2 separate regions of the Homo sapiens genome follow, and region 2 is linked to region 1. The links come from fine-mapping of genetic effects on gene expression. A gene starts in region 1. The other region holds a variant in brackets. All regions are shown on one strand. Distances are between the middles of the regions. Region 1 holds the start of MED27 (mediator complex subunit 27). Region 2 overlaps MED27 (mediator complex subunit 27).

The links. PIP is the estimated chance that this variant, and not a neighbour inherited with it, causes the effect.
Region 2: its variant is the best candidate, but not a certain one, in a credible set for the expression of MED27 in whole blood (TOPMed, PIP 0.56).

What each region holds. Positions count from the first base shown.
Region 1 is chr9:132,076,703-132,085,230 of GRCh38, reverse strand. It overlaps MED27 (mediator complex subunit 27), which reads left to right and starts at 5,364. Exons shown (of 8, transcript NM_004269.4): 1 at 5,364-5,589; 2 at 7,645-7,789. The coding sequence starts at 5,387. RefSeq lists enhancers at 5,188-5,467, 8,391-8,528.
Region 2 is chr9:132,007,071-132,015,070 of GRCh38, reverse strand. It overlaps MED27 (mediator complex subunit 27), which reads left to right. Exons shown (of 8, transcript NM_004269.4): 3 at 604-734. Among named protein-coding and RNA genes, the nearest start is that of MED27, 69 kb to the left of the region's middle. RefSeq lists enhancers at 7,610-7,719, 7,515-8,000. The variant T/C (reference allele first, on the strand shown) is at 3,621.

The DNA.
Region 1 (8,528 bases):
TAGAGTATGATCCTTAACGAGAGGTTCATGTTTGGGCTTTGGAGGGTGGTGCTATGAACCCCCTGAAATTGTACATAAAATCTCATGTTTATGGGCATATGTGGGTGAGGGTAGAAATAGATTGGTACTTTTTTTTTTCCTGGGGACAAAATATACCACATGAGTCACATTTTCTAATCCTTCAGGAACCCCCAAAAGGTAAGTACCTAAGATAATAGAATTTGCCTCCTCTACTCTTTTCCTAGAAAGAATGAACAAACCAAAGCCAAAACCAAAACAAGCCAACGAACAAAGATATTTCTCTTTACTTTTACTTCCTTTACTTTTGTAAAGTTAAAAAATATTTTCTACCAAAACCTTAGGAAAAAGCCTTACCCCTACATTCCAAAGGTGACAAAAAGGCCACCAAGGCCAGGGGCGGTGGCTCACGACTGTAATCCCAGCACTTTGGGAGGCAGAGGCGGGCGGATCACCTGAGGCTGGGAGTTGGAGACAAGCCTGGCCAACATGGTGAAATCCCATCTCTACGAAAAATACAAAAACTAGCAGGGCATGGTGGCGTGCCCCTGTAATCCCAGCTACTTGGGAGGCTGAGCAGGAGAATTGCTTGAACCTGGGAGGCGGACGTTGCAGTGAGCTGAGATTGCACCACTGTACTCCAGCCTGGGCAGCAGAGCGAGACTCATCTCAAAAACAAAAACAAAAACAAAAACAAAAACAAAAAAACCACCAAATATAGTGAATTATGGGATAAAATTCATTGACCAGCTATTAGCAACAAGATCATGTCATTAGAGATAATTTGAACTAATAATCCCATTGCTAATCCTTGCTTGAGTCTATGTAAAGAATTCTCAGTGGGATGAGAAGCATAATTCACAGACACCTTCTCCTAACAGCTATGCTCTTCTGAGCGTTTATTATCTACCAAGCATTATTTCAAAAGCTTCACCTGCAAGGTGTTATTAAACCTCACAGCTATTTTATGAAGATAGGTATTATTACCAGTCTGTTTTACAGACAAGGAAACAGATTCAGGGAGGTTCAATAACTTGTTAAAGCTCCACAGCTAGAAGTTTCCTGTTATCTTCATCCCTTCCCTTAAGAAAAGCTATAAATGACCACATTGTAAAGGTGAGCTAGATGTCAGGAAATGGAAGCAACTATATAATCTCAAGACAAAACAGCTTTCTTGCAAGAGACAATTAATTTAAATAGTGTTTAATAGTTGGTTTGTCGGGGTCCAGTTTCTTAGCAGAATTCATCTTTGTGTTTCCAGAACTAGAGGATTTGAACCGAGGTGGTGCGGTCAGGCTGGGAGGAAGTGGGGAATTTTTTTGAGACAGAGTCTGGCTCTGTCGCCCAGACTGGAGTGTAGTGGCACGATCTCGGCTCACTGCAACCTCCACCTTCTGGGTTCAAGCGATTCTCCTGCCTCAGCCTTCCGAGTAGCTGGGATTACAGGCACGTGCCACCACGCCAGACTAAGTTTTGTGCACATCCGGCTAAATTTTGTATGTTTTAGTAGAGACGGGGTTTCACCATGTTGGCCAGGCTGGTCTTGAACTCCTGACCTCGAGTGATCTGCTCTCCTCGGCCTCCCAAAGTGCTGGGATTACAAGCGTGAGCCACCGCACTTGGCCGGGAAGTGGGGAATTATTAAGGAGGTGGAACTGAGGTGAACTACCCAATTTCAAAATCCTTGTCAGCACAGTCTGGCTGAACTGAAGATTTTTCTTACCACCTAGACGGTGGTTTAGACTTTCCCTGCCTCTTAAGGATGGCCTTTTTATTTACTTACTTATTTATTTTTTTTGGAGACGGAGTTTCACTCTTGTTGCCCAGGTTGGAGTGGAATGACGTGATCTCGGCTCACCGCAACCTCCGCCTCCAGGGTTCAAGCGATTCTCCTGCCTCAGCTTTCCTAGTAGCTGGGATTACAGGCATGTGCCACCACGCTCGGCTAATTTTGTATTTTTAGTAAAGACAGGGTTTCTCCACGTTGGTCAGGCTGGTCTCAAACTCCCGACTTCAGGTGATCCTCCCGCCTTGGCCTCCCAAAGTGCTGGGATTACAGGCATGAGCCACCACGCCTGGCCTGGATGGCCATTTAAAACAACTTATTGGCCGGGCGCGGTGGCTCACGCCTGTAATCCCAGCACTTTGGGAGGCCGAGGTGGGCGGATCACAAGGTCAGGAGATCGAGACCATCCTGGCTAACACGGTGAAACCCGGTCTCTACTAAAAATACAAAAAATTAGCCGGGCGCGGTGGCGGGCGCCTGTAGTCCCAGCTACTCGGGAGGCTGAGGCAGGAGAATAGCGTGAACCCGGCAGGCAGAGCTTGTAGTGAGCTGAGATAGCTCCACTGCAGTCAGGCCTGGGCGAAAGAGTGAGACTCCGTCTCAAAAAAAAAAAACAAAAACAAACTTATTTTGACATAATTTCATACTTGCAAGAATAATACAAAGTATTCCTGTATACCCTTCACCCAGATTCCGTGTCTGTTGACATTTTACCACATCTGCTTTCGCCTTCTCTCTCTAAATAAACATATTCATTTTATTTTCTTTTTCATGTAGACATAATGATGATCTTTTTTCTCTTCAGGGTGTATTTCCCCCAAAACAAAGACATCCTCTTCCATAACCACAGTACAATGAACAAAATCATGAAATTATCAATGATATGGTTTGGCTCTATGTCCCACCCACATCTCATGTCAAATTGTAATCCCCAGTGTTGGAGGAGGGGCCTGATGGGAAGTGATTGGATCATGGAGGCGGATGGATCATGGAGGTGGATTCCCCCCTTGCTGTTCTCGTGATAGTGAGTGAGTTCTCACGAGATCTGGTTGTTTAAAAGTGTGTGGCACCTCCTCCTCTTTCACGCTTCAGCCATGTAAGATGCGCCTGCTTCCTGTCACCTTCCCCCATAATTGAAAGCCTCCTGGGGCCTCTCCAGTCATGGTACCTGTACAGCCTGCAGAAACATAAGCCAGTTAAACCTCTTTTCTTTGCAAATTACCTAGTCTCAGGTATTTCTTTATAGCAGTTCAAGAACAGACCAATACAATCACTGATAAAATACTGTTAACTCATCTACAGATCTTACTCGGATTTCACCAATTGTCCCAGTTGTATCAGCAAAAGAAGATCCTAGCTCACACATTGCCCTCAGTTGTCACAGCTCTTTGGTTTCCTTTAATCTGGAAGAATTTCTCAACCTTCATGTCTTTCGTGACACAGACATATATATATATATATATGTAATTTTTTTTTTTTTTTTTGAGACTGAGTCTTGCTCTTGTTGCCCAGGCTGGAGTGCAATGATGCACTCTTGGCTCACTGCAACCTCCACCTCCCAGGTTCAAGCAATTTTCCTGCCTCAGCCTCCCAAGTAGCTGGGATTACAGGTGCCCACCACCACGCCCAGTTAATTTTTTGTCTTTTTAGTAGAGATGGGGTTTCACCACGTTGGCCAGGCTGGTCTCGAACTCCTGACTTCAAATGATTCACCCACCTTGGCCTCCCAAAGTGCTGGGATTACAGGTGTGAGCCACAGTGTATGGCCTGACACAGATATTTCTTGAAAAAGTATAGGTCAGTCAGTTATTTTGTCACGTTTTTCAGTTTGAGTTCTATTGATGTCCTGATTAGATTCAGGTTATGCACTGCTGGCAAGAATATCATGGAGGTCATGTTGTGCTCTTTCCAGTGCATTGTATCAGGAGGTGCACAACATGTCCCGTCACTGGTGATGTTGACCTTGGCCTTTTGGTTAAGCTGGTGTCTGCCATGTTTCTCCACTGTGAAGTCACTATTAAGTCACTATCCATCCCCCCTTATGTTTACATTAATGAATTGTTTAAAATTTTTTGGTAAAATATACATAATATAAAATCAACCATTTTCACTGTTTCTAAGTGTCCAGTTCTGTGGCATTAAGTACAATCACATTGTTGTATGGCCATCACCACCATCCAGCTGTAAAACTTTTCCAAGTCTGTACTCTTTAAGTACAGACTTAAATATGGCCCTTTGCAATATTATGCTGAAATCTTCCTCTCTACAGCCTTCCTACAACTGGTTATTGTTATTGCCACTAGTTAACCAAGGAGGACTCTTGTCTTGGGTTGACATGAAGGTGAGTTGAAGGTCACAATCATGATCTGCCTCCTGCTCTCCTCTTCTCTGCTCCAAGCTATGCAACCCCAGCTCCTCTAAGGAAAGAACATGAGGACTTGGGCAGGTTCCCTTTAGTAAAAAGATAATAAATTTTCAGAAACCTGTCTATAGCCAACAGGACAAAGAGACATTGAATTTTTCCATAAAGCCAGATTTGGCCAACATTTTGTTGGTTTTATTTAAATCCCAAACCTTCTCTTTCTTCCACAACCTCTATGCTATGTATGTTATTTTCAGAGGTGTGTGTTCACTGTAAACCAGCCACCATTCTACTTTCTGTCTCTAACATTTTGACTACCCTAAACACCTCATATAAGTGGAGTCACACAGAATTTTGTTTTTTTGTGACTGGCTTATTTCACTTAGCATAATGTCTTCAAGTTTCCTCCAGGTAGCATATGTCAGAATTTTCTTGCTTAAGCCTGAAGAATTTTTCATTGTATGCCAGTATCACACTTTGTTTATTCATCAGTTTATGGACACTTGGGTTTCCCCTGCCTTTTGGCTATTTGGTGAATAATGCTGTTATGAACATGTGTACAGGTATTGAGTCCCTGCTTTCGCTTCTTTTGGGTATATGCCCAGAAGTGGAATCTCTGGATCATTATTTTCCTCTTCTTAATTAATAAGCATCTTGGGGGACGATACTTTGAGATTACCTAAAAAGCCTGTTATTTTTCTGACACTTTCACCCACTAGTTTTAGCATCCATCGATTTCTATCTGAATCAATTATTCTAATGGCTGTCAAATGGCAATTTTCTAATTCCATCACTCTTTCTGCATTTATGAGCTGGCATTCTATTGGAAAGAAGAAACTTTCCTTCTCCCCGCTTTATTTATGAATATGGACTCATTTTATTGAATGGGCTATGTTCCTTTCCTTTTTACACTATTGCTCTGAGCAATTCTTTTCCCTATGATTCCCCAGAGTGCAAGTTTGGGGAAATGCGGGAACTTTCTGTATTTCTTTGTCACCATTAAGCAAACCGGGAGTGCAACCTGACTTCCCCAAGTTGAGAAAAATCACTTTCCTGCCCATGCATTAGTTTAGCTCAAGGGGAAACCCTTTTTCGAAAGTGCTTTCTGGGTAGCCCCGCGCGAACTGCATTTCCCAGAGGTCTTCGGAGATACGTCATCAGCGAGCGCGGCTTTTTTGCTTGCGAAGCCGGCTTTGGAGAGCTGCTGTGGCGGCGGCAACATGGCGGACGTGATAAATGTCAGTGTGAACCTGGAGGCCTTTTCCCAGGCCATTAGTGCCATCCAGGCGCTGCGCTCCAGCGTGAGCAGGGTGTTCGACTGCCTGAAGGATGGGATGCGGAACAAGGAGACGCTGGAGGGCCGGGAGAAGGCCTTTATTGCGCACTTCCAGGACAACTTACATTCGGTCAACCGGGACCTCAAGTAGGTACCGGCTGAAGGGGCCGGGGTCGGGGACCGGCCCCGCTCCGACCCTGCCCCTACGTCGCTCGAGTCTTCCCAGGCAGGGGCTGTTCTCCGTTTCCCTTGATCCCTGTTCTTTCTCTTCTTGTTCTCCAAGCCTCTGCCTGTCCCTCAGGGACATCTTAACACCATCCCCGCTTTCTCGTCTTGCTTCTCCTGGCCTCCTGGTCCTGTTTGTCTTCCGCCATCCTCGACCTCTTCTGTGGCGGTTCCATTCCTAACAAGGAGGCATGCTTTTCCCATGAACTTCCACTTCTCTGAGCTTGGCAGGTTTCTCACCTGTAGGCCCTCTGTGCCCCATCACGTCTGATCCGAATGTAGTAATAGTACAGACAGGACCTGGTCAGTCGGCTCCAAACCCAAGTGCACCCGATCTGATTAGCCCCAATTCCCCGGCCCTGAACTTGGACTTCATCAGTTCCACCACCACCCACCCGCAACCACGACGGACCGGCCAGGCCTTGAGCTGTCTTCACCTTTTCCCCTAACCGCTCCCAAACCACCTGATCAGTTTCCTCACTCCCACTCCTGTGGGAGTTCCTTCCGCAGTAGAGACCTACTCTCTAATCTCTTAACCAGTTTAATTACTTATGCTTAACGCCCCTGCTTCTTAATTTGTAGTCTTTTAGGGTTAAGGATTCCACTTTTCCTCCTCTTCCTTACAAAGTACCTTCTTCACTTACACTTTTTAAGTGTTGTAAGAATTAAATGAGAGGATGTTTGTAAAGGGCCTGGCACATAGTAGGCACTTCTTGATTGCTTAGGTCCTGAACTTGCCTTCTGTTTTATAAGAGAGTCAGTCCTTCCCAGGAAGGTTAGAATTTCAGGATTTTTGCCTTTTACTTCTCAGAACTGACCTGAGTAGGGGAAAGCATTTGGTGAGCTAGTCATCCTTTGATTTCTGGACTGGTTGGATTTTTGTTTTTTCAACTTGGTCTCCTTAGTAACCAGATGGAAAGAGGAGGTAGGATGGAGGAGGAGGAGGAGGAGGTGGCCAAATGATGGGTGCCTTTTTGTTTTCCCCCTAAGTAGTTGCCGTAAATCACACAGCCCTCCTCAACGCCCACATCCGCTTGCTGTTCTCTGGCACCGCGCCGAGCACCAGTTAATACTTTCTCTGCTTCAGGGGATGCACTGGCTATTCTTCCCTATCTTCTGTTTTCTTTCCATTTTCTCTCCGAGTTACTTCCCTTTGTAATGTTCAGGATATTATAACCCTTCACCATTTTAAATAGAAACTTTAAGAGTGCTGACATTATCCTTTTGCCTTCTTAAATCTTTGTACAGTAGTGCCAAGAAGAAGGTGGCTGATGATTCCAAAATGAATGTGGCATAAGAAGCTGTTCCTAGAGAGTCTTTTGTTGGCAGTTTGGGACTGGCCCCTCAGAACGTACTCCTGGAATGTGCTCTTGTTGGCTCGCTTTCCCAAGCTTCTCTAGGGTTTTCCTGCTAGACTGAAGTGTGTTTGTTTGACACAGCCACCTCAGTGGTGTCTTCCCATTCCATTTGTTTATTTTATCTCTTCTTTGTTTTGTTAAGTTTTACCATCTGTGAAGCATCATGTACAAATCTATCCCTATGTGAATGATAAATAATCATCATTTAATCAGGTACTTGCTGTTCTGCCAAGTGTAATGATCTGCACGTGGGTCTGAAAACTCTTAGTGAGAGGCAGTGTTATACCACATTTCAAAATTCCAGAAAGTCTCCTCCCCACTGCAGGGATGAATTTGAGTTGTTAATTTCTGATTATGGGGGTCTTATTGATTCTACTGCCCTTACCTTTTTTTTCCTCCTTTGGAATGGCACCAGAAGCTCTGTTTTAAAGTCAGATAAACTCTCATTTAGGGTTTTTTTTTTTAAGTGTCCCAAGTATTTTTTAACCTTTCAAAAAGTATTTCTTCTTAAGGGACTTCTGATGGATGGTTTGAAGAGCAGTCTTTGATCCTGGGGGCTGGCTTTACCCTGGAGTGTAAATGGGCTTAGGTTTATTTGCCTTGTCTCTTTGCTTTTCAGTGAGCTGGAACGTCTGAGCAATCTGGTAGGCAAGCCATCTGAGAACCATCCTCTTCATAACAGTGGGCTGTTAAGCCTGGATCCTGTGCAGGACAAAACTCCTCTCTATAGTCAACTCCTTCAAGCATATAAGTGGTCAAACAAGGTAAGGGAGATGTAATAAACGGAGCTAATATATGGAAAACCAAGTTTTCTTATATTCCATACATGCAGAAAGCAAGAGTATGTTTTTATTGCTTTTTATGTTCTTGATTCAGCATGGGGTTATAGAGTTGGAAGTTGTAGAATTTTTCTGTAACCTATTTTGTAGTCCTTTGAAGTCTTTGGGGATTCATGATGTTCAGGTGATTACATGTTAAAAATTCTAACTCAGGTGTATTTAACCTGGAGACTGGGTATAGGGAGCAACTCTTATGAACCCCTTAAAATTATATGCAGTATGTTGTGGTATGTGCATGTATATCTAGGGAAGGCTTCCTAGCTTTTGTCAGGTTCGCAGAGGAATCTGTGGCCCCCAGGAGGTGTCTAAATGTTTAGCTGCGCACATTATGTTCTTGTATTGTCTTTTCCTCTGTCACAGATGGATGAGCATCACTAGAATACCGTTTGTTAGATGACTCTCTAATTACTTAGATGCCACCTAAGGGAGATTGTTCTTAACATGCTCTGTAGAGTTTGATATTCATGGTTTCTTTCAGCAGGCAGGCCTGTGGCAGAGACCCTAGGACAGCTGTAAGTTGCAAACTAAACTGTAGCTGAAAAATAACAGAAACAATTAGGCTCATGAATCTGGAAACGGTTCGTTTGTTTACTAACAAGTTCCTTTTGTTTGGGTGCTATGTGGTGTGGCGTACATGTGTGTATGGGCTTTTTTTGTTGATTGG
Region 2 (8,000 bases), 70 kb after region 1:
GGTGTACTGCGGTAGACTACAAATTCTATGGTTTTTATTATAAGCAAGATATGGTGGTAGCAAGACTTCCCAGAACTAACTTTGTCTCTAAGGAAAACCTCTGGATTTTCTTATTAAAAAATTACGTAGGCTTTAAAACCATTTACATAAAGCATATGAATAGTAGTCAAAAATAAAGAAGAAAGTAAAAATCACTCGAATTCTACTACTGAAAAATACAGTTAGCATTTTAGAGAACATTTTTTAAAGTGCCTCTCTGTTTACAATGGAACCTTTTTTCTTTTAATTCAACAAAATGGTGTTGTGAAGTTCTTTCTCTATTTTAATCAATTTCACAGTCAGTTGTTGGACATTCCGACTGCTTCCAGTTTTTCATCATGAGGTAATGCTGTGATGAACAGTCTTGTTCTTGTTTTGTTTCCTGTTTGTCTGATTATCTTTTTATGGGTAAATTCCTTGAAGCAGAATGTGAGCAGTTGTATTTGAAGTTACTTAAAATGTTCTAAGGGGATAAGATTATCAAGCATTGCTAGTTTAATACCATTTGTCCTACTTTTACCAAATGCTATTTTTCTTCCCCTTTTGTTTTGTTTTTCTCTGCAGTTGCAGTACCATGCAGGACTAGCATCTGGCCTTTTAAATCAGCAGTCATTGAAGCGTTCCGCTAATCAGATGGGAGTATCTGCCAAACGTAGACCAAAGGCTCAGCCCACAACTCTTGTCCTACCACCTCAGTGAGTGATGGATTTGAAAAATTACTTTAGTACTGGGTGAACTTTTTTACTTTATACTTGTTTTTGGGTAGTGGAAAGTTACTGTTTTCTTCAAAATTCCCTCCCTCCCTTCCTTTTTTTGAGACGGAGTCTTACTTTTTCACCCTGGCTGGAATGCAGTGGCATGATCTCGGCTCACTGCAACCTCTGCCCTCCCCCACCCCCTCGAGTTCAAGCAATTCTCGTGTCTCAGCTTCCCAAGTAGCTGGGATTACAAGCGCACACCACCATGCCCAGCTAATTTTTGTATTTTTAGTAGAGATGGGGTTTCACTGTGTTGGCTAGGCTGGTTTCGAACTCCTGACCTCAGGTGATCCACCTGCCTCGGCCTCCCAAAGTGCTGGGATTACAGGTATGAGCTACCACACCCGGCCCAGAATTATTTCTTTCTTTTAAAAAGGCATCTATTAGGATTAGAAACCAAGCATGATGGTAACATAATTTGCATAGATCTTTGTGAAACAGCTGTAATGCAGTTTATTTTACATATTTTGTATGTGACTTTTCCACCTAGGATTTTAAGAGACCTCACGGCTTATTATTTGTTTCCTTATCACATTCCCAAAGGTGGTAGAATATGAGTACAGTTGTCCTTATTTTATAAATGAGACAGCTGAGGAGCACATTTGGTTAAGCTGCAGACCACCTAGAGAACCTGCTAGAGCTGAGATTAGAATAAATGCTAGGTTCATTCGTTCACATTTAAAAATAGTAATATATGTGCTCTTCTTTTTCCCATTAGGAAGGATAACAGATACAGTAAGCTTCACAGAGCATACAGTTTAATGATTTTTTCACACTCATGTACATCCGTGTAGCCACCACTTCCAGAATCCCATAAGGGTTCCTCCTCATTGCTCTCTGTCTATACCTGTGCTGCCCTCCTTCCCAAGTTTAACACCATTCTGACTTCTTTAAACAGTTAATATTGCCTGTCTTTGAACTTCATTTAAACGGAATCATGCAGTGTCATTTTTTTGTATGAGCTTCTTTTCACTCAACATCATATGTGTTAGATTCATCCTGTTGTCCTTTTTCTGTTGCAGTGTAGTCTTCCTTTGAATATGCCACATTTGATTCATCCACTTGGTTCGTTCAACCTGTTGGGTTCTTTTGTATTAGAAGCCCTAGTAGGTGAGTGCAAAGGCTCACTCAGTGATGTGGAATGAGAAATGTGGGCACATCAGTCCATTTCCTGTCAGTGTGCACACTCCTCTGGGAGGGCCAGATGCCCGAGAAGCGTTCCTTCGCCTGTCCTGCTCACCCCTTGTACCTTCTTCTGATTACATCCTCAGTTACAAACAGCATTCTTTTCTAGTCCAAGGGAGTGTTGGCATATATGAGTTGATTGTTTACCTTTGCTCAAGGTCTCATTTGCTGTTTGGTTAGCAAATATTTATTGTACCTACTCTGTGTCAGGCATGTTTCTAGGCCCCAAGGATATAAACATGGGCAGGACAGACATTGTCCCATCTTTGTTAAGCTTTTCATTTCGGGGGTGGGAGGAGACCAAACAAGCACCCCTCAACAAATTAATAAATTAACGCCATAATTTGTAGTTATGCTTAGTGCTAGGAAGGGACTACAGAGTGGGGTAAGGTATGGGAGTGGGGGATACTGTTAAATAGGGTGATCAAAGAGGGCTTCTCTGAGGAGCCAATATGAGGCAGAGACTTGACGAATGAGGAGGAGAAAGACCAGTGAAGAGCCGGGGGGATCCCAAGGGGTGACTGCTCTGGGGATCCTTTCTCTAGCTGGTGGACGTTCTTATGCCACCACTTCCATGATTTTCAGGCTTTCTTCACAGTTCACACTTGCTTCCAGGATAGGAGGAATGTAACCAGCCAGCCTCGACAAGTAGCTTGTGTCTGTTGCTTGCATGCACAGGGGCCATATTTTTCAAAAAGAAGGTCACTACAGGGACAGCTGCTTTTAGTGATGCAAGCCAGAGTTTTGACTATTTGGCAGAATGCTTCTTAAGGGCCATTATTCTATCTGTTGTTTCTCATGTGTCGATTTGGTGATTCTGCAAATCTCAACTTTCAGCTCTCTAAAGTCTAATGGGCCTTGTAACTTGTCATTTTCCCTGCATGGATTGTCTACTGAGGCAAGATGTTTGGCGAGAAGTAAAAGACTTTCTAATGGTCCCATAAGACTGGAGCCAAAAAGTATTTGTTGCTAACTCTCTCTTGACAAAAGTCAGTTCTTAGTCCATCTGTTCACCATTTGTTAATTTGCATTGGCTTGAAACCTGTTTACAGGTGACATGCTATTGTGAGGACACTTAGAAACTATTTTAGGCATTAGGGCAATCAACAGACTGTTCTCATGCCAAAAAAAAAAAAAAAGAGCGAGAGGTGTTCACAACTGTCATTATAAATTTATAATAAATCACTCAAAATAGTTTCAAAGAGAAAAGTGGTTACTGTGTCCTAAGAATACAACATAGAAATGATTTCCTATACTTAGTAGCCTATTTCCTGTGAAAATTGACTGCTGCCTTTTCACATCATTGAGCTTTTTGGGCTTACATTATCCTGGAATCCCTTTATAGAACTACTGTCCAGTAGGCAGAAGCTATATCTAAAAGACATCAATTGCCTCCCCAACTCCCCTTTTTGTTTCTTTTTAGAGGCATGTTTTTCCTCTGTCACCCAGGCTGGAGTGCAGTGGTATGATCACAGCTTACTGCAGCCTCAAACTCCTGAGCTCAAATGATCCTCTCACCTTGACCTTTGAAAGTGCTGGGATTATAGATGTGAGCCACTGCGTCCCGCCCCATTGCACTTCCACTGAGCACCTACTATGTGCCACTCATTATGTTTGATGTTGGCTAGAAATGCAACA[T/C]GGCTGCCTGTCTAAAAAGTTTTGTTTTTCTTTTTTAAGCTAGGAAATAGAACAATAATAGTATATACATAATGTAGATTTTGAAAAGGTAACAAAAACATTAAAAAATAATGTTTTTGTTATCTGAAAAAGTTATTAAGATTAGGATGGATATTGTTCTAGACTTTTTCTGTGCATATGTCATATATAGTTTTTAAAAGCAATAGTTTTTTTAAAGCAATAAATAGGTTTTAAAAGCAAAATAATCTCCAAAAAGGAGTATATTATAGTATTGTTCTATTTCATATCTCAACCTTTTATTGAATATAGTTGTGACATTTAAGGGAGCATAATTTGATCTATGGACTATTCAAATTTGCATATCAATATCCATCTTTTGGTTGTATTCTATAGAAGACTCCTTATTACAAAATTTTTTTATTATACTTTAAGTTCTAGGGTACATGTGCACAACCTGCAGGTTTGTTACATATGTATACATGTGCCATGTTGGTGTGCTGCACCCATTAACTCGTCATTTACATTAGGTATATCTCCTAATGCTATCCCTCCCCCCTTCGCCCACCCCACAACAGGACCCGGTGTGTGATGTTCCCCCTCCTGTGTCCAAGTGTTCTCATTGTTCAATTCCCACTTACGAGTGACAACATGTGGTGTTTGGTTTTTTGTCCTTCTGATAGTTTGCTGAGAATGATGGTTTCCAGCTTCATCCATGTCCCTACAAAGGACATGAACTCATCATTTTTTATGGCTGCATAGTATTCCGTGGTGTATATGTGCCACATTTTCTTAATCCAGTCTATCATTGATGGACATTTAGGTTGGTTCCAAGTCTTTGCTATTGTGAATAGTGCCACAATAAACATATGTTTGCATGTGTCTTTATAGCAGCATGACTTATAATCCTTTGGGTATATACCCAGCAATGGGATGGCTGGGTCAAATGGTATTTCTAGTTCTAGATCCCTGAGGAATCACCACGCTGTCTTCCACAATGGTTGAACTAGTTTACAGTCCCACCAACAGTGTAAAAGTGTTCCTATTTCTCCACATCCTCTCCAGCACCTGTTGTTTCCTGACTTTTTAATGATTGCCATTCTAACTGGTGTGAGATGGTATGTCATTGTGGTTTTGATTTGCATTTCTCTGATGGCCAGTGATGATGAGCATTTTTTCATGTGTCTGTTGGCTGCGTAAATGTCTTCTTTTGAGAAGTGTCTGTTCATATCCTTCACCCACTTAAATGTTAGACCTAAAACCATAAAAACCCTAGAAGAAAACCTAGGCAATACCATTCAGGACATAGGCATGGGCAAGGACTTCATGTCTAAAACACCAGAAGCAATGGCAACAAAGCCAAAATTGACAAATGGGATCTAATTAAACTAAAGAGCTTCTGCACAGCAAAAGAAACTACCATCAGAGTGAACAGGCAACCTACAGAATGGGAGAAAATTTTTGCAATCTACTCATCTGACAAAGGGCTAATATCCAGAATCTACAAAGAACTCAAACAAATTTACAAGAAAAAACAACCCCATCAACAAAATTTTTATTATAAGCACAACATAACTATAAACTAACTTTTTGTCATTAAGAAAATCCTTTCAACCCCCTTATAAAACACCGAAATCCTCCAAGGTTGCTATGTTAATTATCTATTGCTTCATAACAGATTGCTCTAAAACTTAGTGCTTTAACAGCCATGAACATTATCTCTCACAGTTTCTGTGGATTAGGAATCCAGGAGTGGCTCGTTTGGGTGGTTCTGGCTCAGAGCCTCTTGTAAGGCTGCAGTCACCTGAGGTTTGGCTGGGATTAGGAGCTCCACTTGCAAGGTGGCTCACTCACATGGCAGGCAAGTTGGTGCTGGCCGTTGGCAGGAGATCTCGGTTCCTCTCCACCTAGGCCTCTCCGCAGGCTGCTTGAATATCCTCATGACATGGCTTCTGGCTCCTCCAGAGCCAGCAATCTAGGAGAATGAGAGCCAGGCAGCAGCCATCCTTTTTATGACCTAATCTCAGAAGACACACAGCGTCAGTTCTACCCCATTCTGTTCATTTGCAATGAGTCACGAAGTTTGACTGGCATGCAAGGGGAGGGGATGAGGCTCTCCCTTTTGAAGAAAGACGTGTCAAAGAATTTGTGGACATATTTATTTTAAAACCATCACATCGCACACAGGAACAATGGCTGAGCCTGTAAACCCCATTCACTTATTTATTCAGTAAATATTTACTCAGGGCCTACAAATGCTTGGTTCTATGCACTGTGCTGGGGATTCGGAGATGAATAAGATATAATCTTGGTTTTTGGGAAGTTCTGAGTAGAGATAGGAGCAAACAAGGAGCAGAGCATCATAGCAACATGGACCAAGTTGACTGACATGACCTTCTTCCAGTGCCTGAGAAGGCCACGGGCAGAGTGGGGAGGGAGGTCCACTTGGGGAAGCCCAGCCGCCCTTCACCAGATTTATCTGCTGCTGGCTGTGAAGGATGGGGGCCTTATTTCATTGAGAATGCTAGATGCTTTCTTGCATAGGCTTACAGGATTCTAAGGAAAGGTTTTGTTTTTAAACGGTGGAGGAAAGCAGTGAAGGGCTAGCGTCTGGGTTCCTCACACACCTTTCTCTGCAACCCTGTGCGTATTAGTGCAGTGATGGGTAGGTTTCTGCGTGGCTTGTGTTAGCAGTTGGATGGCACTAAGGCTGCTACAGCAAAACTACTAGTTCTGCCCAACTGTGCAGAGAGCACAGGCGTGGCAGGAATGCAGGAGCTGTGTACGATGTGTTTGTTTTTAAAATGCAGGGCTCTAACGGTAGTCTCTGAAGACTCAGATTCCTCCCTGAGCTCCCATAGGATGAGTGATTCATGGGATTAATGATTCATATCTTTCTCCCCCTCCAAAGAAGCTTGATAGAAGATAAAGATCTTGTTCATGATGAAAGATATTTTATCACTTGTTAGCGTTCAGAGGGCACTGATGAAGTGACCTCACTTCTAGGATTTCCAAATGCTCAAATTAAGGTTTTTGCACAAGGGGTGCTATCGTTTCCGTAAAGAGGCTGAGAGGCTGTGTCCACTGTTGCTGTGCAAACATTGTTGGGCTTCTGAGCCTCATAGGATTGGGATCAGCCTGGAGAGTGGCTATATCTTATTTAATTGATCTATGAGTTATATATTGAGATATCTATGTATTTATTGAGAGATGTAGCTGTGTTTACCTGTGTTCTATCTTAGATAGCAGCCTCGATTTTCTAATGCAGTGTTGTGTGCTTTTGTGTTAACATGGAATATTGCTTTCAATCAGTATGGCCAGGCTGAATGGCCTAGCACTCCTCTGAGTTTCAACAACTTGGCCTGATGAAATGCCAGCTTTCAGTAACAGCAGAGGTGACTGTGTTCATATCCAGCAAACCGAGATCTTATTTAGGTTTGAGGGAAAACAAATAGTTTTTCAGAAAGCTTACATTGAAAACTATTACCTCCATGCCCTGGAAGTTGTGGGGACAGGCAGTTTCTCTTGCATTATATTATCTTCCATGAAAAGATTCTGTCTGCTTGATTAAGGGCATACTTGTTTCCCGGGCTTTGTTCTCTGTGGTCCCTGGGGGTGAGCTATTCGTGCTCCAAGCTAAGAACAGCCCATCTACTTGCTGATGGATCCCTCTCACCTACTCCTGGCCTTGTCTCCATTGGTCTCCTTTTTCCGTCCTACACCATAATTATTTCCCTTTTCTCCTGATCATTCTCATTCATAGACAAAACATGCTTACCCTGAAAACTGTCTCCTGTAAGAACACACATCCATGACTGCATTCTGCCTCCCAGCTCCCACCTCGTGTCTCTCCTCTTTATAGCAAAACTCCTCCAAAGGGTGGATTATACTTGTCTCCAATTTCTCTCCCACCCCAGGCAACTACTGTTCTGATATCTATACTTATACCTTAGCTTTGCCTCTTCTGGAACTTCTGTATAAGTGGAGTCATGCAGAACATAATATTTTCCTTCTGATTTCTTCTACTCAACATGTTTTTGAGATTCCTTTATGTTGCATGTATCAGCGGTTGGTTCCATTTTATTGCTGAATAGTATTTTTTCGATGTTCTTTGGAGCTTACTGGTGCCATTTCCTCAGCGTTTGCATTTGTTTCAGTATCTTGTAATACTTTCAAGAGAGAGAGAGTCCTCACTTTGCGTTTCGATTCTTGGATGACTTGCCTCTCAGGTTTGAGTAACAATAAGACCACAAAAACAGCATGCAGTGACAAGTGTTGCTGGAAGGAAGTGCCACCCATTCAGGAGGTAACAGGGATAATGACACAGCACTCACACCTAGGGCTTCCAGTGTTTGAACAACAGATTGCCTTTGGTACGGCCAC